Linked DNA regions of Homo sapiens. The protein of the gene in region 4 purifies or fractionates together with the protein of the main gene of each other region. This does not show direct contact. Each region holds a gene or a part of one and is shown on either strand. Other genes may lie near its edges. The genes, in order: DOT1L, BSN, ZNF280D, SCAI, ADNP2 and REV3L.

Region 1 (4,744 bases), on a different chromosome or scaffold from region 4:
TAGCCAGGCGTGGTGGCTCATGCCTGTAATCCCAGCTACTCAGGAGGCTGAAGGAAGAGAATCCTTTCAGCCTGGGAGGCGGAGAATGCAGTCAGCAGATATCGAGCCACTGCACTCCAGCCTGGGTGACAAAGCAAGACCCTATCCCAAAAATAATGAGAGAAACAACACTCTAAAGGACAGGTTCTGGGAGACTCTTGGAGGGGGACAGGTTCCAGGAGACTCCTGGAGGGGGACAGGTCCCGGGAGACACACGTTCCGGGAGACTCCTGGAGGGAGTGGGCCCTTCCCCCATGCCTTGCCCTGAGGATCCATTTCTCAGTATTCATGGGCATCCCACAGATCGTCCTTTATCATTAACCAAAGGACCTAAGTGTTTCTCGGGAGTTCTGTGAGCCACTGAGGCAATGTAATCAAGCCGAGGTAAGGGTGACGGGAACCTGGATTTACAGCCGACCGGTCACTCAGAAGCACAGGTCACAACGTGAGGCCTCTAACTGGCATGGAAAGTGGGGGAGTCTTGGGGACTGAGCCCTTACCCCGTGGGATCTGAGCCTGTGTCGAGGTAGACATGCTGGAAGTGAGTTGAATCGGGGCTGCCCAGTAGGAAACACAGAACTGATGAATCCCCGGGTACCCGTATCTGGTTCCGCAACTCCTCTGTGTTGACTGCGGAGAGCACAGGAGGAACCGTGTTGGGTCCTTCCTACACCTCACACTGCTGGAAGATAAAAACAGCTCCAAGCAGTCCGTGCCCAGTGAGGCATGCAAAATGCATCAGGTCCAGAGAGACAAGAGCAAGGATTTCAGTCACGCCTCCCAACCACACCAGGGGCAAGCGTGGAAAGGCATCTATCTGTTCCTGCATCCTGGTCTCGGACACTATCTTCCTGTTCCTGGAATCTGTAACACCAAGAGTGATTTGCAGCCATCAATGGCCAATATTACTTGAACAAAAATTCTTTTTTCCTTTATCTAATTTTGTCTGTTTGTTTGAGACAGAGTCTCACTCTGTCGACCAGTCTGGAGTGTAATGGCATGATCTCAGCTCACTGCAGCCTCCCCCTCTCGGGTTCAAGCAATTCTCCGGATTATAGGCAACCGCCACCACGCCCAGCTAATTTTTGTATTTTTGGTAAATACGGGGTTTCGTCATGTTGGCCAAGCTGGTCTCGAACTCCTGACCGCAGGTGATCTGCCCGCCTTGGCCTCCCAAAGTGCCGGGATTACAGGCATGAGCCACCGTGCCTGGGCAACCGTGTGTTTTTTTTAATTAAACTTTTTATTTTAAGATAATTGTAGATTCACACTGTCGAGCTAAAGGAAAGGAACTGGAGCAAAATTAATATAAGTGGAGCATTTATTTGGGCCACATTTGAGGACTGCAACCTGGGAGCACAGGCTCGAATTACCCCAAATATACACTCTGATGAGCAGCAGATAACAAGCAGATTTTTAAAGGAAAAAAAGAGCTGGGCGTGGTGGCTCACACCTGTAATCCCAGCTACTCGGGAGGCTGAGGCAGGAGAATCACTTGAACCCAGGAGGCGGAGGCTGCAGTGAGCCGAGATTGGGCCACTGCACTCCAGCCTGGGAGACAGAGCGAGTCCGTCTCAAAAAAAACTCTCCTCAGAGGCTAGGCTGGAGTGTCCCTGTATCATCTGCAGAGTTTCTGGACAATTCCCCGCCCCAGTACCCCCTGCAACCTCTTTCAGGCCAGCAGGAACAAAGCAGTGTGCATTTGCTATAAAACGGAACACTTGGGTTTTTTCTATTATTCCTTCCTATTTAAAGCGACTCCTTTACTCACACAAAGCTGCCTAAAGGTTAATCTGCCTCCGGGGGAGCTGGGATTACTCAGGACACTCAAGCTCAGAGGTCAGCAGCAGAAAATACCTTCTGAGTCACGGTGGGGACAGCTCACCCCGCCCCGGCTGCTACTCACTGCTGGCTGCCCACTCACCGCCGCCCACAGCCGGGCTCCAGGCCAGGCTGTCAGGCGGAACATGTACTCACTCATTAATGAGAGTCAGAGAGTCCGGACCCTTGGCCAGTGGAGGCCGCCCCTGCCCGCCCACAGCCTGTGAGTCACCAGGGGGAAGGTCCCGTTCTGTGGCCTTTGAAGGTTCTTTCCGAGCAAACAACCAATAATGCCACTTGTGCCCTTCCCACTAGAAGAAGGGCAGGGCCATCCTGCCCTAGAAATACCACGCAGGGCCAGGCACGGTGGCTCATGCCTGTAATCCTAGCACTCTGGGAGGCCCAGGCAGGTAGATGACAAGGTCAGGAGTTCGAGACCAGCCTGGCCAACATAGTGAAAACCTGTCGCTACTAAAAATACAAAAAATTAGCTGGGCGTGGTGGCGGGTGCCTGTAGTCCCACCTACTGGGGAGGCTGAGACAGGAGAATCACTTGAACCCAGGAGGCAGATGTTGCAGTGAACCGAGATCACACCGTTGTACTCCAGCCCAGGCAACAGTACGAGATTCCCTCTCAAAAAAATAAGAAATGCCATGCGGGGCTTGAGAAAAGCGGTTATCCAGGAACTCCCAGGTCATGTAAGAATAAAAATCTCCCTTCCTCCCCCTTGCGTTTGCCAATTGGGCAAACCCCTTCCGAACTGCTCATTTCCGAGCGTGGACAGTTGTGGCTATTTCTGCTTCCTCCTCCGGATGGCCCCTCCTCCAAGCAGCCACCCACAGGTCCCCCAGGGCAGAAGTGGCAGCCCCTCCCTGGGGACCTCAGCTGACCTTGTACTCAGCACAGTATCTCTGCTGAACTTCTATTTATAATCTACTTAACTTCACTGTTTTAAATTTTTTGGTAGAGATGGAGTCTCCCTATGTTGCCCTGGCTTGTCTCAAACTCCTGGGCTCAAGCAATCCTCCCGCCTGGGCTTCCCAAAGTGCAGGGACTACAGGCATGAGCCCCTGTGCCCGGCCTGTCTTCATTTGACAGGTTTCTTGAGACTAAGAATGCTGGGGCGGTGGCGGGGGGAGAATATTGGCTTGTTGTCCTCTGTGCCCCCACAACACTGAGTATTCAGTAGCTGCTGTTGGAATGAATCATGAATAAATGTGCTGCTGCAGCTGCGTCTGGGCACGGTGGTTCACGCCTGTCATCCCAGCACTCTGGGAGGCCGAGGTGGACGGATCACCTGAGGTCAGGAGTTTGAGACCAGCCTGGCCAATATGGTGAAACCCTGTCTCTACTAAAAATACAAAATAAGCCAGGCATGGTGGCACAGGTCTGTAATCCCAGCTACTGGGGAGGCTGAGGCAGGAGAATCACTGAAACCTGGGAGGCGGAGCTTGCAGTGAGTGGAGATTGTGCCACTGCACTCCAGCCTGGGCGATAGAGCAAGACTCTGTCTCAAAAAAAAAAAAAAAAAAAGAAAAGAAAAGAAAATCAGAACCACCCCTCACTTCTTGTGAGAAAGCAAAATTCCTCAACGGGAACACAGAAAATGACAAATGTCACGGCGAGGTTGTCAGAAGGCTGCCTCTGGCACTTGGGCGAATGAAGATGCTGGGCCCGGCAGTGGGCCAACCAGAGCAGGAAGAGGCCGTAGACGGCGCCAGGACCAGCACACCCTGCCAAGCCAGGGCCTGGCCAGGGAGGGAAAGACACGGCACAGTCCCGCCCACCACTAGAAAGCCCGCTCCCGCCAGCTCTCGCCCTTACTATTTACAATGGAGCACTGGCCAGGCAGGGCAGCAGGCATGCGGGCGGGGACACCAGGGCTGCCTTCACGTGAATGTTCACTTCAGTACCAAGGAAAAGGCAAAGGGTCCCTGGCAAGACCACTACCCCAGGCCCCGACGCTGGGTTCCAGTGGGTTTCTTAGCACTGACAAGTGGCAACTGTTGGGATGCAGATGTTAAACAGACGCTTAGCACAGGCCGTGCGGTCCACCCCTGAGAACCTCGCCACGCGAACACTGACTTTCACCAAAAATCCCGCCAGTGGTGTTTAGTGCGGGTTTATTCTAATCACCAAAAATTGGAAACAGCCCACAGTCCTGTGACCCACAGGCAAACACGTCAACAATCTGTGGCCCAACTGTCCAATGGATTTACAGTCAGCAAAAAAATGGGGTAACTTTTGAAACCTGCAGCAACACGGATTTGGCCGCCTGAAAGCCACCAGGACCAAAGGGCAACATGCTGTTGATTCCATTCAGCCAACTTTCTGAGAATGGCAGAACTACAGGTAAGGCCAGGTGGGGAGCAGCCAGGAGCTCCCAGGCAAGCTGAGGATGGGGGCGCCGCAGGGAAGCTGGGGGTTCTGCACCTGGACGGCAGCACTGGTCAGGGCACCACCCAATGAGTTTGTCAAAACGTATAGAACTGTACCCTGCAACCAGCGAACTACGCCCTAGGTGAACTGAAAGAGGAAGATATACGAATAAATGTGAGGCCAGGTGCGGTGGCTCACCCCTGTAATCCCGGCACTTTGGGAAGCCAAGGCAGGCGGATCACCTGAGGTTAGGAGTTCGAGACCAGCCTAGCCAACATGAAGAAACCTGGTATCTACTAAAAATACAAAATTAGCCGGACGTGGTGGCTCATGCCAGTAATCCCAGCTACTCAGGAGGCTGAGGCAGGAGAATCGCTTGAACCCGGGAGGCAGACGATGCAGTGAGCAGAGATGGCACCACTGCACTCCAGTCTGGGCAACAAAAGCAACACTTCCTCTCAAAAAATAAATAAATATAAATAAATAAATGTGAGGCCAGGCGAG
Region 2 (4,744 bases), on a different chromosome or scaffold from region 4:
GCAGTCAGAAACCTCATAGAGGTGGGTAGAAGGCCAGGTAAAAGGGAGATGATTCTGGGGGAGTTAAATGCTATTGCCATATTACCTTGTCATCCCAGGCTGAATTAGTCTTTTCATCCTCATACTGAGCTGAGTTGGACTCTGTGAGGGGGTGGCTCCAGCATTTGCTGCTGAAGAGCCTGACTTGAATCCCATGAGTAGCAGTGCTGCCACACCCATAGTGGTGCCTCTTAGCCCGTCGGGATGATGTGGAGCTTTGGGCATTGGAGAGTCCCTCAAGGAAGGGCTCTCTGCTTCTGGTGTCAGGGTGGCCATGTACAATTATATAATCTGTGCCTTTTCCAAGGAGTGCTGGTTTGGGAGAAAGCTGAACTCTAACCCAGGCTCCACTCTCCAAGCTGTGTGCCCTGGTGTAGGCTGCATCCTCTTAGATGAAGGGGCATCATTCACTCGTTAATTCATTTACTTATTTATGGAGATATGCCTAATGTACAGTGGAACACACATATTGATGGGATTTTATTTATACATACACTCGTGACACACTACCAGATCAAGACAGAACTTTATCAGTACCCCAGAAAGTACTTTTTAAAATAATTACACGAAGGAGCCATGTAGACCAGTGGCAGCCTGTCTAGTTTACACCAGCTCTGTGGACTTGCACCTGTCAGTTTTTTTTTTTTTTTTTTTTGAGTTGGAGTCTCGCTCTGTCGCCCAGGCTGGAGTGCAGTGGCACGATCTCCGCTCACTGCAAGCTCCACCTTCTGGGTTCACGCCATTCTCCTGCCTCAGCCTCCCGAGTAGCTGGGACTGCAGGCGCCCACCACCGCACCCAGCTAATTTTTTGTACTTTTAGTAGAGATGGGATTTCACCGTGGTCTCGATCTCCTAACCTTGTGATCTACCTGCCTCGGCCTCCCAAAGTGCTGGGATTACAGGCGGGAGCCACTGCACCCGGCCCAACTTGCACATGTTTTGATGTTTGCAAATTGATATCTAGTCGATCAGCTAAGGTGTATTTGTCAGCTGTCAAGAGCAAGCACAGTTATTGGCTTTGTGGATGGTATGGAAAGGATATATAGTGCTTCCCTGTCCTTCAGCACCTCACAGACTGGTTGGTCAGATAGCTCTTGAAGAGCCAAATCATGGAAGAACCCTAAGAGAGACACTGTGGGCAGCTCAGTATCTGAGAAATGTCAAATAAGCAGTGCTTACAGGGTTGTTAATTGGGAAGAGTGGAGAGGCACAGCTAAGCTTTAGGAGAGGTAGAGATGTAAGGCTGGAAAAATGACTGGGTTAAGAGAGGTAGAGATAGAGATAAATGGCATAAAGAATGTGGTCTACACAGGCAGGGACAGTGAGCAGAGAATGAGGCTGAGTGCAGGGTGGTGGGGGAAAGCCAGGGCAAAGCCAACAGAGGCCCTTCTCCATCATTGCCCATCAGAATGCGTAATCAATGCCAAAGTCGCCTCTCTTCACTCCTGGCCCATATGTTATTGAGACAGACACCCTAAGCCAAAGGCAGCTAGGCACAGAGAACCTGGTTGTTTACTGGAAGGTGGGCAAGGCTGCTCTGAGAACCATACCCCGAATTCCTTTTTCAAAATGGATTTGTCAGGCATAGTATCTCTGGTCTGGGATTAGTCAGACTTGTTACATTATATCAGCCAACTCAGCCTCTAGAAAAATCTGGCACTAACTTGTAAAGATAAAATGAAAGGACATAATTGCCAGGTCTGGAAATAATGCTCCTTTGTCACTTAGAGATCTTCTTTGTCCCCAGTGGCTGGATCTCACAGAGGGTATGTCATGGAGTGTGAATTAAAGTGACCTTACATCTGAATGGTGACGATGTCAAAATTTTACCCAGAGGGCAACCATTTTTGCATTTCTCCAGGGAAAGCAGGCTACTTTTGATAATACAGTTGCTCACAGCATCATTAAGACTAATAAGGTGCTGTTGATTTAAAAAATGTAAAAATGTAATGGAGACATTAGGAGGAGAAATACTGTCTTTTGTTTGTTTGTTTTTTGTTTTTTGAGACAGAGTCTTGCTCTGTCGCCCAGGCTGGAGTGCAGTGGCGCGATCTCGGGTCACTGCAACCTCTGCCTCCCGGGTTCAAGCGATTCTCCTGCCTCAGCCTCCTGAGTAGCTGGTATTACAGGCACCCACCACCAGACCCAGCTAATTTTTGTATTTTTAGTAGAGACGGGGTTTCACCATGTTGGCCAGGCTGGTCTCAAACTCCTGAGCTCAGGTGATCTGCCCGCCTCAGCCTCCCAAAGTGCTGGGATTACAGGCATGAGCCACTGTGCCTGGCCGAGAAATGCTATCTTAAACATTTTTTTTTTACTATGGAAAATTTCAAACATACATGAAAGTAGAGGAAATGGTCTAATGAACTTTTGTGTTCCCATTGCTTAGCCACTGCCATCATCAACTTATGGCCAATTGAGTTTAATTTATCTCTCTCACATCCTACCCCCTAGAGAAGCAAATTCCAGACATCCCAAAATTTCATCATCAGTATTTCAGTTTGTATTTCCAAGAAATAAGGGCTTTGCATGAACATAACCACAGCACCACAGCCACATCTAAATAAGATAATGATCTCTTCTTAAACTCAGCAAATATTCAGTCAGGATTCTACTTTTCTGATTGTCTTATGAATTTACTTTTATTATTGGTTTGAATTGTGATCTAAACAGGGTCTACACATTGAATTTGTCTGATGCATCTGTCTAGTTTCTTTATGTATTTTCTCTCCTTTTTGCTCCTTGCAGTTTATTATTAGAGAACTATGACATTTGTCCTGTGGTTTCTCATATTCAGGATTATGCTGATTGCATCCCTGTGGTGTCATTTAAGATGTTCCTCTGTCCCATGTTTTTCTTGTAAACTGAGAATTCTGTCTAGAAGCTAATCAGATTCAAATTTTATTCTTTTGGTCAAGAAATTCTAGCTTTTTAAAAAAGAGTTTATTGAAGGCTTCAGACATGGAGAGGCTGAGAGTTCACTGAAAGCAGAACCAGGGTTTGGGCTAATTGGGAGCCAAAGAACAATGCAGTGGACCACTTTTCTGTTCCTTTTCTAAAGATCTCCTTCCTCTGAGTCAGTTTGGTTCTGAGTTTAAGAAGTCAAAGCTTTCAGAGGAAAGTTGTTTTTTTTTTCCCCCAGAAAAGTCATGCCTTTCACCCCAGTGTGGGGGAGCCCTCCCTGCATATGTGAGTAGGAAGCCTCCTACTCACATTTGGGGGCTTAATAAATCTTTCCCCTTATCACAGGTCCTGCATTTCTGAATTGGGCCCTTTCCTCTTGTTAGTTGTGGGGGTGTGGAAGGCCAGACCTACTATGTGTGGGCTATGTGAGGGGAACCTGTTGCTGGAGCCTGTGGGCCATGTGCAGTAAGTTGGGGCTAACTGTGAAGGTAGGTTGGCAACACTGTAATAGCAGTTATGACTACCATTACTGAATGACTGCCTCATCACAGACATTCTGCTAGGTGTTTTATTTCTTATTCCACCTGCTTGGCCATTCAGCTTCTGCAGGCCCTGCCTGTCCTGACTTTACTTACTGCCTGGGGACTGACTTTTTAAATGGTAAAATGGTGGCTAAGCCCTGCATGCCTACAGCAAGGGCTGACTGTCACTTTAGGACATGAGGCCCTCTGGGTAAGCTGGGACTTGGTGAACAATCTAGCTGTGGGGGACTCCTGCTCAGTCCTTTCATTTGGTGCCAGGAGCATGTCATGCTGGTATTGATCCTGCATTTGTAGCACTTGCCCGAGCTCCTTTTCTGGAGGGACCTCTGCCATCTCCTCTCACTAGCACAGTGGTTGAAGCTGTGGAGTGAATTGGGACACTGGCCTGTGGGCTCCTGCCTGTGGTAGGGGTGATAGAATTTTGGTGTCTCACTCTCTGTGGTTCCTTCTGTACAGATCGGGCTTCTAGTGGGGGTCTGTTGCCCCCTAGCATTCTCTTGGCCCATTTGTCTTATATTTTAGGTTCTGGTCAGCTCTGCTGTGGAATGGGATACTCCCTGACACATCTGTGTTGTGCCTTGGGCTCCCAGGCTGGCCACAGGGCTGCTGTGATCTCTCCTTCCTATTATTCGTCTTTACGGGCACATAGGGTTCTAAAGAGAGCTTTGCTCTAGCAGAGACCTGGGGCCCCTACTTCTTTCTAACAAGAGGGTCACATGGAGGCACATGGGAAGCCTCCAGGGAGCTCTAGATCACCCCAGGATCAGATCAAATCTTGAATGGCCTGGAGAGGCCTGGTTGCCCCTAAAGTGGGTGAGGCTGCTGTCAGGGCCAACGGTGAAGAAGAGATTTTCCCTGAGGGGAAATAGAAGGGATGGCTTTTGGATCTTGGTCCCAAACACTGAGGAGATCCAAGAGCCTCAGCAGCAAGGATCACCCCACCCAGTCCTATCTGGGACTAACCCCTGTATCCAGAGGAGCCCGAGCTCTTCAATGCCACTGGCTTGTGTGGGGAGCCAAACCTCCCAAAGATGCTGGAAGAACCATTAAGGCATTTGGGTTCTTGGGAGAAAGGGTAGGTGAGGAAATTTCCTAATAGTTACACTGTTACATTTGTGTTTGCAGGCAGGTAACAAGGGTCACTCCCATTAAAAAAATTTTTTTAATTAATTATTTAAATTGACAAAAATTATGCACTATATATTTATTATATACAACCTGATGTTTTGAAATATGTACATATTATGACATATTATGGA
Region 3 (5,194 bases), on a different chromosome or scaffold from region 4:
TGGTTACCTCCAAGTACACCAGATCTGTAGGAGTGATCCAGGTGGTCTTTGGGGAAGATTAATTTGGGGGCAGTAATCAATATGGAGACTACAGTAATGATAAACACTTGAGAAAAACTGGGGAAAGCCAGATGAGAGAGAAGAAACTGAATTCGAATAGGAAGATGAATTAGCAAGATTCAGTGATTGAACAGGGTGTCTGTTATGGATCCTAACAGGCAAGATTTCAAGTCTTGGTCACTCACAAGCTGCACCAGTAATGCCATTGCTCTTGAGAAGACAATCAGTTTAGGAAACTTTCCTTACAGATCAGAATACAACCTTTAGCAAGTATTTACGCAAGCAGTATCTTGGCAAGTGTTCTTCTTGTAAATTTCTTATACTTCTCGTTGTCAAACTTTAAAAAATGCTATTACAGGTTAATATGCAGATGGCAGAGTTAGGAATTAGAGTGTGCAAGTTAATCATTCTAATTGGGTCACTCTTGTCATAGCCAACTAAAAGAATGGAGAAGCCAGTGCTGGGGGAAGCCCTCAGGGCACATAACATTGCTCTAAGAATGGAATTCTCAGCAAGCCTGGCTGCTGAAACCGCCTGCTGTAACCTGAAACAGGTTTTATCTTCAGGTTTTAGCTTCTCAAAGAACCTGCTGCAGCTGTAGGGCAAGCTTTACCAAGCCCCTTCCCTCACCAGTCAGAACTAACCAGCTACCCAAAACTTTACTAAATGTCAACGAACTTTCTAGAAAAACAATAGATAACTTTTTTTAAAAAATAAAACCCCCTAACTCCTCTTTGTTCTTCTGACATACTGAAGACCACCCTGTATGTGTAAATAACCTGAACTTGCAATTCCTGTGTCCCAAATAAAACGCTAAATGTACAGATTCGTCTCTTCGTATTTGACCTCGACAGGGAACGCAAGCAAAACCACACATTTAAAACAGACTTGGTAAAATCAGCTCGTTATTTAAAGAAACGGACGATTCCTTTTTCTCTCCTGGTTTAGTCTTCGACCCACAGGCCCCTTGCTTCTTTCGAACGGCGGCTGTATCCCATGACCTTTTCACTTTCCAAGCCAACGGACTGGGGGTCGTTACACACGCGGAGGGCCCGGAACGCACGGCTCCTCGCCTGCAAATTCCGAGCAGTCCGGATTTTGGGGCTGCCTCCCGGCCACACCAGCCAGCAGCTCGCACCCACATGGAGGCAGGGCCCTGGCCCTCGCCCCGGACCGGCGCGTGGCGGGGCGCGTGGGTCTTCGAGGGCCCGCGACGCGGCGCACATGCCGGTGCCCGCCTCCCGCGTCGGCGAGAAGACAGGGAGCTCGGACACGGGGAGGCTGACCCGGAGCCTACCCATGAGGCAGCGCGCCGGCTGCACGAGAGCCCCCCCCTTTCCACGGCTCGGCTGCCAGCTCCGCAATGGGAGCCGCCGCCGTCGCCGCAGTGTAGTTTTTCGTGCTCCTCCTTTTCCTCCTCCTCTTTCTCCTCCTCCTCAGGGCTCCAGTCAGGCCGATCCGCTCCGCTCACGGTAAGCGCCCCCCCGCCCCCGCCCGCCCTGCGCTGCAGCAGGCAGAGGCCCTCCCGCGCGGCCTGCGCCGCCTCACTCCGGGGGCGCTGGACTGGGGGTCTTGAGGCCGGCGCGGGTCGTCGGGAGCGCCCAGAGCGCGGGGGAGGAGACCGGCTGCGCGGCGGCGGCCGGACCGCCATCTTGCGTCGGCCCAGGCGGGGGAGGAGGTATCCCGGCGCGACGCGGCAGCCGCCTCGGCTGCTGCAGGCCTGGGCCGCGCAGGCCTTCGCCTTCTGCTCCTCCGCCACCTCCTCTCCCAGGCGTGTGCGCCTGTTTGTCCCCAGCCTGGTTTTGGCTTTTCTCTCTGGAGGCAACTCCCTTTGGTACATTTTGTGCCGATGTTTGGCCAAGACCCATGGTCCTCACACCACAGCCCACCCCCGTGTCTCTTCAGTCGTAGGAAAGGAGACCAAAGGGGATTCGGGATTTGCAGGCACAGGGCCCCTCATTTTGCCCAGATGACCGGTCGTTCCACGTTTGCACCCTCATTTTTGTCAAAGAGACCTCCCCTCCTCTGCCATAGAATTCCCGTTATTGTCTACAGAAGAAGGGCCCTGAGGAGAAACGTGGAGTTGGAGACAAAATTTTCTGAGCTTTGCAAGGTTCACTTACTGAGACGGAAAGAATGATCTCACTCTGAGGTTTTAGCCTGCTCCAGCGATGGAAGGAATTCCTCCCAACTTATCGCAAGTTTTAACGCTTTTAAGGAGAAATCTGCTGGAGAGGAAAAACGTCAAGGTGAACCCGCTTCTGCAAGCACGGGAGACCTTTGGCCAAAGGCCTTTGTTTGCGAAGATTTGTTAAAAAAAAAAAAATCTGTCATCTTAAATATTTGGCTTTATTTTCAGGTTTGGACAGAATTTGTCTTTTTTAGTGCCATGAAACATAAAATGGAACGCTAGAAGGACAGTTTTAAAGCACAAAAGCTGCCTCTTAGCATCTGTAAGGTGTCCTGCTTTGGGGGACTGCTGTGCCAACTCCAGCTGTCTCCACGCAGAAACTTAACCAGGGAAGGCACTGGTTTGCTTATACCATTGTTAGGGCTGTGTGCCTCTGATGTTTTAACATCACTACAAATACTGTTGTAATTGTGTCTTGCTTTTGTGCCTTTCATTGATAACCCCTGATTTGTATCTCTTAGCCCCTTTTGAAGTGGTCTGGGTTGCTGGAATCATTTTGCAGGCGAGGAAACAGAGCCTCAGGGAGAGGACTTTAATGAGGTCACTGACTAGGAAGAGCCAAGGCCAATTATATTAATAGAACCTTAGGTCTTCTGACTCCTTCTCCGGTGCTCAACTCTAGTATATACCATTTTTGTGGGAATGAGGTAGATGAGAATAGGCAAGGAGGCTCACTTAAAGATTTTAAGAAACATTACTCAGTTGCCCTTTCGTTGATATTTTTATACTTTACTTTTGAAATGCGGTTGTTATGTTGCCCAGGCTGGTCTCAGACTCCTGGGCTCAAGCTGACCTCTCACCTCAGCCTCCGTAGCTGGGATTACAGGTGTGCACCATCTAGCCTGGCTTTTATATTTTTATTCTCGAGTTAATTTCTTAACTTTGCAACTTGCTATTTTTTTCGAAAATATTGGAAAGTTAAATAGCCCATTTGAACACTTAGTTTTAACGCTACCTTTTTGCCATATTTGCATTTTTCCACTTATCTCACATTCTGTTTTCTGAACGTTTCAAAGTGCATTACGGATATGACAGTTCAGCCCTAAATGCTGTATGTGTGTCAGTATGTATTTTGTAAGAGATCAAGGCCATTTTTCTGTGTAACAATACCGCAATCACACTTAAGAAAGTGAAGAATATTCCTTAAAATCTAACGTGGTGTAGTATATATTCACATTTCCCCCCATTTCTTCAAAATTCCTTTTCAGTCTTTTTTTTTTTTTTTTTTTTTTGAGATAGGTACTTGCTCTGTGTCCCAGGATGGAGCGCTGTGGAGCAGTCTTGGCTCGCTGCATCCTTGACCTCCTTCCTGGGCTCAAGCCATCCTCCCACCTCGGCCTCCTGAGTAGCTGGGAACCCAGGAGCACGCCACCACACTCAGCTAATTTTTGTATTTTTTGTAGAGATGGGGTTTTGCCGTGTTACCTAGGCTGGTGTCAAACTCCTGGGTTCAAGTGATCCACCTGCCTCGGCCTCCCAAAGTGCTGGGATTACAGATGTGAGCCACAGCACTGGGCGAAATTGACCTTTTGAAGAGACCTGGTCTGTAGTCTTTCAGAATAACCCATATTCCATGTTTTAGTGATAGTTCCTCCTGATAGTGTTTAAATTTGTTCCCCCTATCCTCTCTGTTTTCTCTAAACTTGGATTTGGGTCTAAAGGCTTGAATATATTTAGGTTTAATATTTTTTTGACAGGAATACTTCATAAGCCATGCAGTATGCTTCATTGCATACAACATCCAAAGGCACATAAAGTAGGCTTGTCTTATTAATAATCCTAAATTTGATCTCTTAGATAAGGTGGTGACAAGCTATCTTTCCATTGTAAGCATTTCCTTCTGCAATTAGCAAGTCATTTGTGGTGTGATATTTTGGCATTAGTAGTTGGTAGGAATTTACCTGCAGTAATCTGATAAACACAGTTGGGAGCAGTCGTTTAGGTATGGCTTTGGAAGTTAGGAAGAAGAAGAAGTGGAGACAATTCTGGAGGAAATACTAACCCATCTACTTTAGGGAACTTGGAATGCTTCTATGTGTTGGCATCAGAGCCTAGGGAGACTAGGAGAGAGGAGGCAGAAAGTAGATGTCAGAAAGCTTTGCCTTCTTTGAAAGTTTGCTTAGGACCATTTTAGCCATAGTAAGCTATGGTAAATAGAAAAGTTCTGAAGTAGTTTGATGTTGGAGGATTGCAAGTGCTTCAACTGGAACATCTGTCCAGTTAGGCTACTAATCCAGTCCTTTTTCATTCCAGTGTTCTATTAATCAGCATTGGCTCACTGAAATAGCAGTTTTCACAAATGAAAAGTCAACTGTAGTTTTAGGTGACAGGAAATTGGATATTTCTATTGACAACATACTTTGTTATTCCAAAAGCAAGTTTTGGAAGATGAGGAATACTTACGACATATTCACTAATTAAATATATAAATCCTGAATAGTTTTTTTCTTGCTTTAGAAAGGAATTAAAAACTTTGAATTTTCAGATTGCTTTAAATAGTGATTTAAATAATGACTTGATTTAATCAGTGCCTTATATCAAAAATTGTATGTTTAGAATTTTGATTTATTTCTCCAGAGCAATTTTAAGGATTCTCTTAACCCTCAGTATACGAGGAAAAGTGTACAATTATCACTATCATCTGGGTCAAAAGGGACTGGTTTTTTTTGCATTTTACGTTATTATGTATAATTTATAGGAGTAAAAATAAAGCATAATGTAAAACAACTTATTGGAGCTTTTAATAAGAATTTCAATACAGCAGATATCTTTGTATGTACTTAGAAAAATAAAAAATAAAAAATCTATTTCATGCATTTAATTACATAACACTCCTACAACAAATATACATCACATTTGAACGCTTTGCATAAACATTCTCATTGTAACACACATTTTTTTCTTTTTGAGTTTCTGTATCTGTACAAAGAACATCTTTCTTTC
Region 4 (4,744 bases):
ACCAAAGCCGGGCAGAGACACAACCAAAAAAGAGAATTTTAGACCAATATCCTTGATGAACATCAATGCAAAAATCCTCAATAAAATACTGGCAAACCGAATCCAGCAGCACATCAAAAAGCTTATCCACCATGATCAAGTGGGCTTCATCCCTGGGATGCAAGGCTGGTTCAATATATGCAAATCAATAAATGTAATCCAGCATATAAATAGAACCAAAGACAAAAACCACATGATTATCTCAATAGATGCAGAAAAGGCCTTTGACAAAATTCAACAACGCTTCATGCTAAAAACTCTCAATAAATTAGGTATTGATGGGACGTATCTCAAAATAATAAGAGCTATCTATGACAAACCCACAGCCAATATCATACTGAATGGGCAAAAACTGGAAGCATTCCCTTTGAAAACGGGCACAAGACAGGGATGCCCTCTCTCACCACTCCTATTCAACACAGTGTTGGAAGTTCTGGCCAGGGCAATTATGCAGGAGAAGGAAATAAAGGGTATTCAATTAGGAAAAGAGGAAGTCAAATTGTCCCTGTTTGCAGACGACATGATTGTATATCTAGAAAACCCCATTGTCTCAGCCCAAAATCTCCTTAAGCTGATAAGCAACTTCAGAAAAGTCTCAGGATACAAAAATCAATGTACAAAAATCACAAGCATTCTTATACACCAATAACAGAGAAACAGAGAGCCAAATCATGAGTGAACTCCCATTCACAATTGCTTCAAAGAGAATAAAATACCTAAGAATCCAACTTACAAGGGATGTGAAGGACCTCTTCAAGGAGAACTACAAACCACTGCTCAATGAAATAAAAGAGGATACAAACAAATGAAAGAACATTCCATGCTCATGGGTAGGAAGAATCAATAACATGAAAATGGCCATACTGCCCAAGGTAATTTATAGATTCAATGCCATCCCCATCAAGCTACCAATGACTTTCTTCACAGAATTGGAAAAAACTATTTTAAAGTTCATATGGAACCAAAAAAGAGCCCGCATCGCCAAGTCAATCCTAAGCCAAAACAACAAAGCTGGAGGCATCACGCTACCTGACTTCAAACTATACTACAAGGCTACAGTAACCAAAACAGCATGGTACTGGTACCAAAACAGAGACATAGATCAATGGAACAGAACAGAGCCCTCAGAAATAACGCCACGTATCTACAACTATCTGATCTTTGACAAACCTGAGACAAACAAGCAATGGGGAAAGGATTCCCTATTTAATAAATGGTGCTGGGAAAACTGGCTAGCCATATGTAGAAAGCTGAAACTGGATCCCTTCCTTACACCTTATACAAAAATTAATTCAAGATGGATTAAAGACTTAAATGTTAGATCTAAAACCATAAAAACCCTAGAAGAAAACCTAGGCATTACCATTCAGTACGTAGGCATGGGCAAGGACTTCATGTCTAAAACACCAAAAGCAATGGGAACAAAAGACAAAATTGACAAATGGGATCTAATTAAACTAAAGAGCTTCTGCACAGCAAAAGAAACTACCATCAGAATGAACAGGCAACCTACAAGATGGGAGAAAATGTTCGCAACCTACTCATCTGACAAAGGGCTAATATCCAGAATCTACAATGAACTCAAACAAATTTACAAGAAAAAAACAAACAACCCCATCAAAAAGCGGGTGAAGGACATGAACAGACACTTCTCAAAAGAAGACATTTATGCAGCCAAAAAACACATGAAAAAATGCTCACCATCACTAGCCATCAGAGAAATGCAAATCAAAACCACAATGAGATACCATCTCACACCAGTTAGAATGGCAATCATTAAAAAGTCAGGAAACAGGTGCTGGAGAGGATGTGGAGAAATAGGAACACTTTTACACTATTGGTGGGACTGTAAACTAGTTCAACCATTGTGGAAGTCAGTGTGGCGATTCCTCAGGGATCTAGAACTAGAAATACCATTTGACCCAGCCATCCCATTACTGGGTATATACCCAATGGACTATAAATCATGCTGCTATAAAGACACATGCACACGTATGTCTACTGCAGCACTATTCACAATAGCAAAGACTTGGAATCAACCCAAATATCCAACAATGATAGACTGGATTAAGAAAATGTGGCACATATACACCATGGAATACTATGCGGCCATAAAAAAGGATGAGTTCATGTCCTTTGTAGGGACATGGATGAAATTGGAAATCATCATTCTCAGTAAACTATCGCAAGAACAAAAAACCAAACACCGCATCTTCTCACTCATAGGTGGGAACTGAACAATGAGAACACATGGACACAGGAAGGGGAACATCACACTTTGGGGACTGTTGTGGGGCGGGGGGAGGGGGGAGGGATAGCTTTAGGAGATATACCGAATGCTAAAAGACGAGTTAATGGGTGCAGCACACCAGCATGGCACATGTATACATATGTAACTAACCTGAACATTGTGCACATGTACCCTAAAACTTAAAGTATAATAAAATAAAATAAAATAAAATAAAATAAAATAATAAATACAAAAAAAAAATACAAAAAATTAACCGGGCGTGGTGGCACACACCTGTAGTCCCATCTACTAGGAAGGCTGAGGCAGGAGAATCGCTTGAACCTGGGAGGCAGAAGTTGCAGTGAGCTGAGATTGCACCACTGCACTCCAGCCTAGGAGACAGAGCAAGACTCTGTCTCAATAAATAAATAAATAAATAAATAAATAAATAAATAAATGTCAGTTATCTAAGCAAATTAAATTCAAAATAGGAAGAAGGAAATAAGAATCAGAATCAATGTAAGAGAAAAAATTAGAAAAAATCAGTATTTCATTTACTACAATATATCGAGGCCTATTAAAATGCCATAATAATGAAGTCAGAAGTATCAGCATAATAGACAAACAGACCAAAGGAACAGAATGAGACTCAAATATATTTGAACATCAGATTTATGATAAAAGTGACACTGCAGTGTGGCAGGGAAAAGATGGTCTTTTTAGTAAATGGTGCTAGGTCTACTGGAAATCCAGAAAGAAAATCTGACCCATACTTCACACTAAAATAAATCCCAAAGATATCATAGATCTAAATATGAAAGGTAAGGTAAGCAATGATTTCTCAAAATAGGACACAAAAAAGCTAATACCAGAAAGGAAAAAAATTATAAATTAGACTACATTAAAATTAAGGACTTCTGTTCACTGGAATCTCAGTATCTGGAACAGGGGCGTCTGGCATAGCGTAGATACTAATAAATATTTTAACAGATGTTTAAAGAAAAGGAGAAAAAGAGACAGAAGATATCAGAAGAGAGTAAAAGGCAAGACAAGAGTAGGAGAAGATAGTTCAACACATAAATCTGACAAAGGACTTTCATGTAGAATATATTCAGAACTCTTACAGATCAATAAGAAAATACTGGAAATGCTTGGTCATAGAGTGTGCACATATGGAGCTGTACTAGATAATGCCTGACACTTTTCTAAAGTAAATCTATCAATTTCTATTTCTACATAGTATGAAATATTCAGTTCTTGTACTAGTTGCCAGGATATGCTATTATCAGTTTCTTGGTCTCTTTTGTTTTTAGTCATCTAGTTCGGTGATATCTCATTTGGTTTTAATTTATATTTTTCTGATTAGAAAAATTTTCTTTGAATTAAAAAAAAGTGAGAAAAATACCGAGCCTTAAGATAGTATAACTATACAAACCATAAATGTTTCAAAATATTTCCATTTAGTATATTCATACTATAATTTCAAAAACGTTGTAGACATTTGCAAAATAATGGTCATAAAAGCCAAAAATGGAGAAATACCAGAAAAATTTAACAATAACAAAAGTGATTGATAGATGCTAGGATAGGATCCAAAATTAAACTTGTATAAAAAACACATCTAGAAAAATGTATTCACTGGTGTAATTTCCAGTAAATTTCATTTCTAGTACATTAAATCTCATCATCATGGTGCTACTCTGTCATGAAAAAACATTTGAAATTCACTTTTGACAAATTTACCCAAAAACAACTCCTGGCCAAGTGCGGTGGCTCACACCTGTAATCCCAACACTTTGGGAGGCTGAGGCAGGAGGATCACTTGAGGTCAGGAGTTCAAGACCAGCCTGGCCAACATGATGATGCCATCTCTACTAAATATACAAAAATTAGCCGGGTGTGGTGGTATGTGCCTGTAATCCCAGCTACTTGGGAGGCTGAGAGGCAGGAGAATCGCTTGAACCTGGGAGATGGAGGTTGCAGTGAGCCAAAATCATGACACTGCACTCCCACCTGAGTGACAAAGCAAGACTCTGTCTCAAAAAAAAACAAAACACAAAAAACACCAACTCCTCGCCCCTTTTTGCTTGATTGGAAAGTAGGACATATACATTTTGGAAACTTTATTATTATTATTAATTTTTGAGACAGAGTCTCGCTCTGTCACCCAGGCTGGAGTACAGTGGTGTGATCTTGGCTCACTCCAACCTCCGCCTCCCAGGTTCAAGTGATTCTCTTGCCTCAGCCTCCTGAGTAGCTGGGATTACAGGAGCATGCCACCATGGCTGGCTAATTTTTGCATTCTGTAGTAGAGATGGGGCTTCGTCATGTTGGCCAGGCTGGTCTTGAACTCCTGACCTCAAGTGATCTAACCACCTGGGCTTCCCAAAGTGCTGAGATTCCAGGTGTGAGCCACTGTGCCAGGTCAGAAATTTTGGAAACTTTAGAATGTTGTAAAAAATAAAATAAAAATCC
Region 5 (4,744 bases), on a different chromosome or scaffold from region 4:
ACCCTGAACACAGCCACAGTGAAGGAAACTTCACAGCACTGACACCCCAGTTACATACCTTCTTTGGCACTTTGGGGGCTACCAGTATAGAATCATCAGGAATCTGTAGTTACACCTATTTTGTGACCCCAGTAATTAGACCTTTTGGGTTATGTTCTTATTTTCACACAAATGACAGGTAAGGTTTTTTTAGAAAATAAATGTGGTATCTATTCCCATATAGAGGTTATCCCTATGATTCACAATAATGTTTTAACTTTTAAAAGAATTAAACAGTTCTATTTGCAGCGGTGTAACAAATTTTAATTCAAAATAGACACTCTGAAAACAATAGGTAAAAAAAAAAAATGTTCAACAAGCTCTCTTTGAATTTACAACAGAGTACACCAACAATCATAAACCAGTTTCACAACTGCCTCAAATATGAACATTATAGCAATTACATGCAAGTATTATATTTTTTAAAATCCACATAGTAACATTATGTTTCTCAGAGGCTGTCACATCCTCCAAATATTTCTACCTAAAGATAGAGTGAAGGGGTTCCTCTGCTGTGTACCACCAGAAATATGACTTACCATCTAAACTGGCTGGTCTCCATGACTGGTTCTGGTGCTTTAAGTTTTAATATCGTGTGGGGAAAAAAACGAGGTTTAACATCCACAGGACAGTGACGACAATGGAGATTCTTTAACAATATGCCATCCCATCGACCCGGACACAGCTTCCAGCCTAAACCAGCTAGAGAAAAGCCCGTTTCTCCACTAAACATGACCTTCAGAAAATGTGGTCAAAGACTTACTGTACCAACCATGGAGACTGAGATCTCAGTCTGTAAACTTCGCCATGTCCCCTGAAACCCTATGCTGAAATTTAAGTTAGTTTTCACACTCAGGGGCAATAATCTTATTCCTGAGTATCATAGACCTTCCCTTTCACTAGTTTATGAGTAGTTAAGTTAGGAGAAGAGTTTTGGGGTGTATTCTTTCAATGTTTATTCTAAAGGCACTAAAAATTTATTGTTTTACCTCTGAACGGAGAAATGACTTAGCATATCAAAAGGGAAAATCTACACTGAAAAATATTTCTGCATCTACAGAATAAATTTATTTGTAAAATAACTCTTGATGTATGAGCTACATACCAGCATACCAGATGTCAAATTCAGTCTACTTTTAACAAATAAAAACATTTGATTTTCTATGAGTTATGGTTAAAAAAAAAAACAGCTATTAGGATAAACCTAAAAAAATACAGATCTAAATTATAATCTATAAGCAAAGATCTTACAAAGAAGTCAGCGTAAGTTAATGCAGTGCATCCTCAGGGAGCCTTATACATACATCACAGGGTTTGTACCCACGTCTCTGAACACTCACTGTACCATCTGCTGCTACAGGGAAAGCTGAAGGAGATCGATGCTTCCACTCGCAGTTAAATCAAGTATTCTGAAAAAGGCTGAAATGTCCTTAATGAAAAAGCAAATTATTTATAGATTTCAGTTTCTTATCATACGATACTGACACTAGTGGGAAAACAAGGCGTGCATGAAATATCAAAAGATTTCATTTACATGACAGAGAAAAAAACCTGAAAACAACTGTTCTGTTACAAATCAAACTGCAGGAAACAATAGATGTGAAATAACTACTGGCTTCCTGGTAACAGGGGTCTCTCCAGCACCTGAAGTAACTCTGCAGAGCAGCACAGTGACCACTGAGGTTGATTCACCAACACAGTGAGGACAACACTGTGAAATTTCAACTGAAAAAAATCTACCTACTACTTTAGAGTTACTTTTTTTTTTTTTTGCAAGTTTTATGGTTCATATTCAAAGTTCAATCTATGTTTCACATTTTTAAGTTCAGACATATCAAAGCCTAAAAGTACAGAAGGCTTGTGATTTTTTATTGCTTTCATGCAAATATACCTTCTTTTTCCAAAAAATGAAGCCACATCAATTTTCCACACCCAAAAGAGTGAGGACAACAGTTCTATTTCCTTTTTACTAGGATATGGTTTCTTATGGAAATAATCTTTAAGAAATTGCTTCTTTTCTTCATAAGAACGGCCTTCATATTTTTTAGGATCTAATGCTAAAATCTGAAGAGCCTCGTCCTTGACAATAGGTCCCTCTGTTCTGCTTTCATTCCTTTGTCTTTTAAAAGGCACAACACTCGTCACCTTTTCTGGACCCGGGGCTGCATCGGCATTTAGGATGGGAGGCTGCTCCTCCCCATGCCGCTGGTCTTCGGCCCCTAAGTGGCCGTCAGGCAGCTTTCTCTTAACAGAAAAACTGGAATCATGCATCACTTCACCACTGACTAAAAGCAGTTCACTGTTGTGAATAAAACCCGGCTGGGCCTGCAGGTCTGAGCTGCTGTCCTTGGGAGCACTTCTGCAGCGCACCAAATGGACGGCGATGGCAGCCAGGGTCATATTTCCCGTGTAGACCCCACAGCAGTGGATGCACTTGAAGGCGGGAGACTTCAGGACCGTGTGGACTGTGGGCATGATGTGGTGCCTCTCCTTCAAATGCAGCTCATAGGCCTCAGTTGTCACAAAGGGGCCAAAGCAAAAGGGGCAGGTGGACACTCGCTTGCCGGTGCTCCCGGGGGTGCCCTCAGCCTGAGGCCTCACCTTCACATACACAGGCACCAGTGACTTGGAGTGTATCCCAGCCAGGATTGCCAAGTAGACTTCCCGCTCCCCAAGCTTCTCCTTTGGCAATATGGTGATGAAATCAAGGTGGGGAAAGAGCAGGTTGCCATTGGCATCGACATCTAATTGAAAACCTCTGTTGCTATAATCCATAGGCAACTTCTTCTTCCCCAGGTGCCTATTCCTGCTGTGCTCTGAAAGACCTTTGATATCATGGAAGGTGCATGGACAGAACAAGCACCCCAAGCCATGCATCAGCAAGTGGTGTATAAGCTCTTCCTCAGAGACCAAGCACTTACAAGACAGACATCGCACCGTTTTCTCTCTCATCCACTTTAGAAATGGTGCACACGCTGCCAGTTTTTCAGGCTCAAGTTTCTCACCAGACTTGGACTCGCTGTGCTTATGCGCTACCTCCATGTGGACCTGGTAGACGTTGGACGGAAAGAGCTCGTTGCAGACAGGGCAGGTCTTCCACTGCTTGGCCTGTTTGAGCACCTGGTTTGTGTCTGCTGCAGAGGAGGAGGCCTGAACAAACACGCTCTGAGCAGCATTCACCAGCACTGGAGGAGAGGGCATGCCGGGCATGGAACCGGCCATTGGTGCAGCTGCACCTGACGGCAGGAGCTGGATGGGCATCTGGGGCGGAGCGACAGTCGCAAGGCCTCCAGGGGGAACCGGCAGAGTGACAGACACGGGGGCCAGCGTGTAGGTTGGAATCCCATTCACTTGTTTCCCTGTAGGGATGAGCTGTCTGAGAATAGAGCCTGATGTCAGGAAGGTGGTGTTCTGCGAAGCACCAGGTCTCACTGGCTGATTCACAGGCAGAATGTTGGTGCCCACAGTCTGGTTGAGTTGCAAGACCCCAGGCCTCACTGGCTGGCCCACAGGAAGAACTCCCGACACAACAGGCTGACTAAGCTGCAGAACACCAGAATTCACACCCTGGTTTACAGGCACAACAGCTGAGGAGGAGACTGTCTGGTTGGGAGAAAGAAGCCCAGACGGGACCACCTGGCCTGCAGAGATAACCCTCAATGGGGCTGTCTGGCCTGGGGGAAGAACCCGTGACGGAGCTGTCTGGCCCACAGGGAGAACTCCTGACTGGACCATCTGGCCAGTAGGAAGAACCCCAGAAGTTGCTGTTTGCCCAGGGATAACCCCTGCAGGAGTCATCTGGCCTGCAGGAGTCATCTGGCCTGCAGGAAGGACTCCAGACGGGACCGCCCGACTCACAGAAAGCACCCCTGGCGAGACAGCCTGCAGGACCCCAGGGGTGACAGAGGGGCTCACAGGAAGAACACCAGGCCCAACAGGTCTGTTTATGGGTCCCACAGGCTGGGTGAGGGGTAAAACCCCAGGGCGAACAGTCTGATTTATGGGGAGGACACTAGTTCCAACAGACTTATTGACAGGTCCGACTGGCTGACTCAAGGGCAACACAGGAGGATTCACAGACTGATGAAGTGGAACCCCGTGAGAAAGAAAGACGGGCTGAGGTGCTGGGGGCTGCAGGGTGAGGCTGTTCTGGCCCACAGGCAGAGGGCTGGAGACCAGAGTCATGTGGGATTGGCCAGCAGCAGGGGGGGAATGAGTGAGGCTTCCAGGGGCACCCTGGGCCACAGTCACTGGCTGTCCTGCGGCTGGGCTTGGACTGTTCTGTGGCAAAGCAAGATGGAAGCAAGGAGGCTGCGCTGGAGCGCTTGGAGCACTGCCATTTGCTGGTGCAGCCAAATGTGCTGCTGGTTTTGGAGCAATGTGCGTTTGCTTCAAGAGTCCAGTCCTCTTAATATGTTCTGAAATCACAGATCTAAGCTTATTCTCCAAATCTCTGTGTATGTCTGATGTCAAAATGTGATACATTAACGCATCCTGGCTGCTGGCATTGGCGTTGCACTTTTTACAGTAATATTTGTCAGGTGGTGGGATCTTCTCTATAGAAACAGTATCGTTAGTTTTCGGTTGCTCACCCATTTCCTCAGTTCTTAGGCCAAAGTAGGAGTTAATTAAGTAGTGAAAATGGGCTACCAGCACATGCTTCTTCATGCTGTAGTACAAAGTGTTTGAAAAGTTACATTTTAGA
Region 6 (4,744 bases), on a different chromosome or scaffold from region 4:
AAATGGTATTTAATTTTTAAATGTTAAACTTTTATACCATTTTAAAAGAACTTCATTTTCAAGTGTTTTGAAAATGAGCATGTATGTGTTTTAAGTATTCCTCTGATATATCTCTAAGTGAAGATTATTGTAAGTTGTTTCTATTATAAACCACTTTTCATGTGGTTTCAATATCTTGTATTATATTGTTATTGTTATTATAGTTTATGCAGTTATTAGCAAATGGACTTTGGTTTCCATTCTCCTTTCTTTTAAGAATTTTTTCAGGTGGCTGGGTATGGTGGTGTGCACCTGTAATCCCAGCACTTTGGGAGGCCGAGGTGGGAGGATCGCTTGAGCCCAGGAGTTTGCGACCAGCCCAGGCAAAATAGTGAGACTCTCTCTCTACAAAAAATTAGGCCGGGCACAGTGGCTCACGCCTGTAATCCCAGCACTTTGGGAGGCCGAGGGGGGCAGATCACCTGAGGTCAGGAGTTCAAGACCAGCCTGGCCAACATGGTGAAACCCTGTCTCTACTAAAAATACAAAAATTAGCTGGACATGGTGGCAGGTGCCTGTAATCCCAGCTGCCTAGGAGGCTGAGACAGGAGAATCACTTGAACCCAGGAGGTGGAGGTTGTAGTGAGCTGAGATCACGCCACTGCACTTTGTTGCCTGGGCAATAAAGAGTGAAACTCCATCTCAGAAAAAAAAAAAAAAAAAGATAGCTGGGCATGGTGGCATGCACCTGTGGTCCCAGCTACTCAGGAGGCTAAGGAAGGAGAATCACTTGAGCCCAGGATGTCAAGGCTGCAGTGAGCTGTGTTCACGCCGCTGCATTCCAGCTTGGGCAATAGAATGAGACTTTATCTCAAAAAAAAAATCTCTTCAGGGAATTGATAGACAAACATGTGAGCGCACGCACACACACAGCAAATAGCAAAATAGAAATCAGAGTACTGGTTTATTTATCAGTAGTTAAGTAGTTATGGTGTATACCACTTTCATCACCAAGTTAGGACATAACTGATGAAAGCTAAATTGGGTAATGTGGCTTAATCCAGAAAGTTTAAATGATGGCTCTTGTTCCTGCCCTTGTGTCCATGATCTCATATACTTAACCAGTTGCAGAGCAGGCAGTTCATTTCAGCCATCCATTCAGAAGCAGAAGAGGATGGCTGGAACTGCTAAGGCAGGCCCTGCCTTAGTCTAAATCTTGGAAAGAGATAGGAAAAGCAGCAGAGGACACACTGCATGTATGCACTGACCTGTGGCAGTACCATGTTCCTGACTCCAGTGGGAAAAAAAAAAAAGAAAGATACAATATGAATATTACACATTTGTTCAAAGCCATAGAAAGTACCACACCAAGAACAAACCCAAATGTAATCTGTGGACTTTGGACAATTATGATGTGTCAACATAGGTTCATCGATTGTAACACATGTACCACTCTGGTAGGGGATGGTGATAATGAGGGAGGCCATGTATGTGTGGGGGCACAAGGGATATATGGGAAACTTCTGTACCTTCCTTTCAATTTTGCTGTCAACCTAAAGCTGTTAAAATATCTTTTTAAAAAAGTTTAAATTAAAAAAACACGACAGTGAATGCCAGGCTTTTACCCAGCAGATTCACAATAATTCCTATAGGAATCCATTTAAGAAAGGGTTGAGAATGTGAAATGATGGATATGTTAATTTGTTTCACTGTAAGAACCATTTTACTATATACTAATATCATATTTTATACCTTAAATATACACAATAAAATTTATTTTTTTAATAAAGGGGTGAGAAAAGGTTATCAGAAATGCAGAATAAAAGTTCTCTCCTGTAATGACTTGAAGTGAAAGGTAGAAATGTCCACCTCCCAGCCCCTTTTCAACACACAGTTTTGTTTAGTACCCACATGGAACTCTTTATTTCACTGCTGGAGCATATGAAATCTGTTCTTTAGACGTTAGTTTCCATCATTTTGGGGACTTTGGTGTTATTAGTAGTGATTATGGTATATTTACTTTTAGTTACCAAACTTTATGTGCTAGTCATTACCTTTGTGTTGTTGTTATTGTCCAACTTTGACACTTGTCCTGCAGCTAAAATAAAAAATAATCATTTTTGAAAAATATTTTTGAAATATGAAACTGTAGGCCGGGCACGGTGGCTCACGCCTGTAATCCCAGCACTTTGGGAGGCCAAGGTGGGCAGATCACAAGGTCAGGAGATCGAGACCATCCTGGCCAACATGGTGAAACCCCATCTCTACTAAAAATACAAAAATTAGCTGGGCATGGTGGCATGAGTCTGTAATCCTACTCGGGAGGCTGAGGCAGGAGAATCACTTGAACCAGGGAGTCAGAGGTTGCAGTGAGCTGAGATCGCACCACTGCACTCCAGCCTGGTGACACAGCAAGACTGTCTCAAAAAAAAAAAATGAAACTGTATATTCAATATAGAAAATTTAGGAAGTATGAAAGAAGAAAAAATAAAAATTACATCATTTTTCCATGTAGTAACAGCCACCATAATATTTTGATGTGTATTCTGTTTTCTTTTTTAAAAAGTATAGTTTTTAGTTTGTTTTGTTTTGTGAAGTGTGATCTTACTATAGTCACAGTATTATATCCAAATTTTTCACTTAACATTATATTGTAAACATTTTCCAAATGAGTTTCTTGAATATTTTAATCGCTGCATATGTTGCATCATGTATATATTATTGGACAGAAAGGTTGTTTGCAATTTTGCCACTATAGATATTATGTATATTATTATGTATGTTAAGAAGATATTAGCATTTTCTTCTTAAAGCATTTCTTGTATTTTGGAGTTTTTCCTTATAGCCCTAGAAGTAGGATTACTGAAAAATTTAAGGCTCTTGATACATATTAGGAGATTTTTTTTCCCAGTGGGTTATAGCAATTACCATGCTGCTGACAATATGTAAGAAAACTGAATTCACCACACCTCACCATTTTTTTTTTTTTTTTTTTTTTTTGAGACAGAGTCTGGCTCTGTCACCCAGGTTGGAGTGCAGTGGCGTGATTTCGGCTCACTGCAAGGTCCGCCTCCCTGGTTCACGCCATTCTCCTGCCTCAGCCTCCCGACACCTCACCATTTTTTATTCTTGACCTCATTATGACTTCTCTATCCTTAGTATTAGAGTTGGGTATGGTCACTTGGTATGTGTATTCATTTCCTTCAACAGCATTAATTCTGTTTCTGTTTTTTCACATTGCCAAGAGTGGATGCAGGGACAGTGCTGGATGCTGGTTATGGAGTTAACTAGTAGGGGCTTAAGTCTTTTCATATAAAGGAGACAGAGTAGCCCTAATGCTCTTCTTTCAGCTTCAAATCTGAAAACATGATCCAGTTAGTGGATTTTACATAGAGAGTGATGGGGACATTTGGGGAATCATGCCCTAAGAGAAGTGATTGAAAAAACTATGAATTAACTTTATATCCATAATAAAGTTAACATGAAGAAGTAGAATTATTTTATGTTGCTGTAGTAAGCAGAAATAGTATCAAGGGATTGGAGAAAGACAGAGGTTTCACTTAATATTTATAACTATTGGAAATGAAACCAGACTGTTTTCATTAGTGATTTCCCACATATTCATGCATTGGTAACATTTAAGCCATGCATCCTGTGGGCTCTGCCAGCTCCTAAGTTATGTCAGTGTTAATCCCTGCCATGGAATGGGAAGAAAGAATTAGAGTAATTTACCTCAGTTGGTATTTTTTTTAATGTTTAAGGGAATTTGAGAGTACGAAGATTCATTTGAATTGACTGGCTTTGTTAAACTACAGATACTGGAGAATATAGGAAGAAGCTATGAATAATATCCAGGGACATAGTATTTGAATGATAAATTCATTGTTTTTATTCATATGTGGTAATAATGGAAAATTTATTTTAAGATTAGGAGAGGAAAGGAATCTGAAAAGTTTGTGTCATCTCCTTGAAGGACAGAAGGCTTCATGGGGCATTAAAATAAAACAAAAAATACCTTCTCTCCCTAAGATTAATGGTACCTTCCAAAGGAAATTAAGTAGTAGTCATATACCTGTGAGGAAAAGCATATTGAGACTAAAGATAGAATGTACCTGCACAATATAGAGGGGGCAGGGAAGATAGACATGGACATTTTTGAGACTCCAAAAGGGACTTTATCTAGGATATGGAGTTAAATATTTTGGTAATTGCTCTTTGAAACAAAACAGTTGTTCTAAAATATGTTATTATAGGGAGATTGGTGGACGGCTCCTCATGGTAGAAACTCGACTTGCAAATGATCTGGCTGAGTTTGAGGGAGACTTTTCCTTGGAAGGACTTCGTCTTTGGAAAACAGCATTCTCAGCAATGACTCAGAATCCAAGGCCAGGGTCACCCCTTCGCAGTGGCCAAGGAGTTGTCAATAAAGGGTCAAGTAATAGCCCTAAGATGGTTGAAGATAAAAAAATTGTGATTATGCCTTGCAAATGTGCCCCAAGTCGACAACTGGTTCAAGTGTGGCTTCAAGCCAAAGAAGAATACGAACGTTCCAAGAAACTGCCTAAAACCAAGCCAACTGGAGTTGTAAAATCTGCTGAGAACTTTAGCTCTTCAGTTAACCCAGATGACAAACCTGTAGTGCCTCCAAAAATGGATGTAAGTCCATGTATACTCCCCACTACAGCACATACCAAGGAGGATGTTGATAATTCTCAGATTGCTTTACAAGCACCAACCACGGGATGTAGTCAAACTGCAAGTGAAA

What was found.
Region 1: the proteins of SCAI (region 4) and DOT1L purify together in Homo sapiens (affinity purification with mass spectrometry, with the first as the bait; one study listed by BioGRID). This does not show direct contact.
Region 2: the proteins of SCAI (region 4) and BSN purify together in Homo sapiens (affinity purification with mass spectrometry, with the first as the bait; one study listed by BioGRID). This does not show direct contact.
Region 3: the proteins of SCAI (region 4) and ZNF280D purify together in Homo sapiens (affinity purification with mass spectrometry, with the first as the bait; one large-scale study listed by BioGRID). This does not show direct contact.
Region 5: the proteins of SCAI (region 4) and ADNP2 purify together in Homo sapiens (affinity purification with mass spectrometry, with the first as the bait; one large-scale study listed by BioGRID). This does not show direct contact.
Region 6: the proteins of SCAI (region 4) and REV3L purify together in Homo sapiens (affinity purification with mass spectrometry, with the first as the bait; one study listed by BioGRID). This does not show direct contact.

Annotation. Positions count from the first base shown.
Region 1 is NC_000019.10:2,166,385-2,171,128, reverse strand, and holds part of DOT1L (histone-lysine N-methyltransferase, H3 lysine-79 specific), read right to left. Parts: intron 1-4,744. UniProt on the Homo sapiens protein: Histone methyltransferase. Methylates 'Lys-79' of histone H3. Nucleosomes are preferred as substrate compared to free histones. Binds to DNA.
Region 2 is NC_000003.12:49,556,902-49,561,645, forward strand, and holds part of BSN (protein bassoon), read left to right. Parts: intron 1-4,744. UniProt on the Homo sapiens protein: Scaffold protein of the presynaptic cytomatrix at the active zone (CAZ) which is the place in the synapse where neurotransmitter is released.
Region 3 is NC_000015.10:56,729,796-56,734,989, reverse strand, and holds the start of ZNF280D (zinc finger protein 280D), read left to right. Parts: upstream 1-1,480; 5' UTR 1,481-1,532; intron 1,533-5,194. UniProt on the Homo sapiens protein: May function as a transcription factor.
Region 4 is NC_000009.12:125,013,700-125,018,443, forward strand, and holds part of SCAI (protein SCAI), read right to left. Parts: intron 1-4,744. UniProt on the Homo sapiens protein: Tumor suppressor which functions to suppress MRTFA-induced SRF transcriptional activity. May function in the RHOA-DIAPH1 signal transduction pathway and regulate cell migration through transcriptional regulation of ITGB1.
Region 5 is NC_000018.10:80,135,884-80,140,627, reverse strand, and holds the end of ADNP2 (activity-dependent neuroprotector homeobox protein 2), read right to left. Parts: coding exon 1,819-4,744; 3' UTR 282-1,818; downstream 1-281. UniProt on the Homo sapiens protein: May be involved in transcriptional regulation. May play a role in neuronal function; perhaps involved in protection of brain tissues from oxidative stress. May be involved in erythroid differentiation.
Region 6 is NC_000006.12:111,367,517-111,372,260, reverse strand, and holds part of REV3L (DNA polymerase zeta catalytic subunit), read left to right. Parts: intron 1-4,232; coding exon 4,233-4,744. UniProt on the Homo sapiens protein: Catalytic subunit of the DNA polymerase zeta complex, an error-prone polymerase specialized in translesion DNA synthesis (TLS). Lacks an intrinsic 3'-5' exonuclease activity and thus has no proofreading function.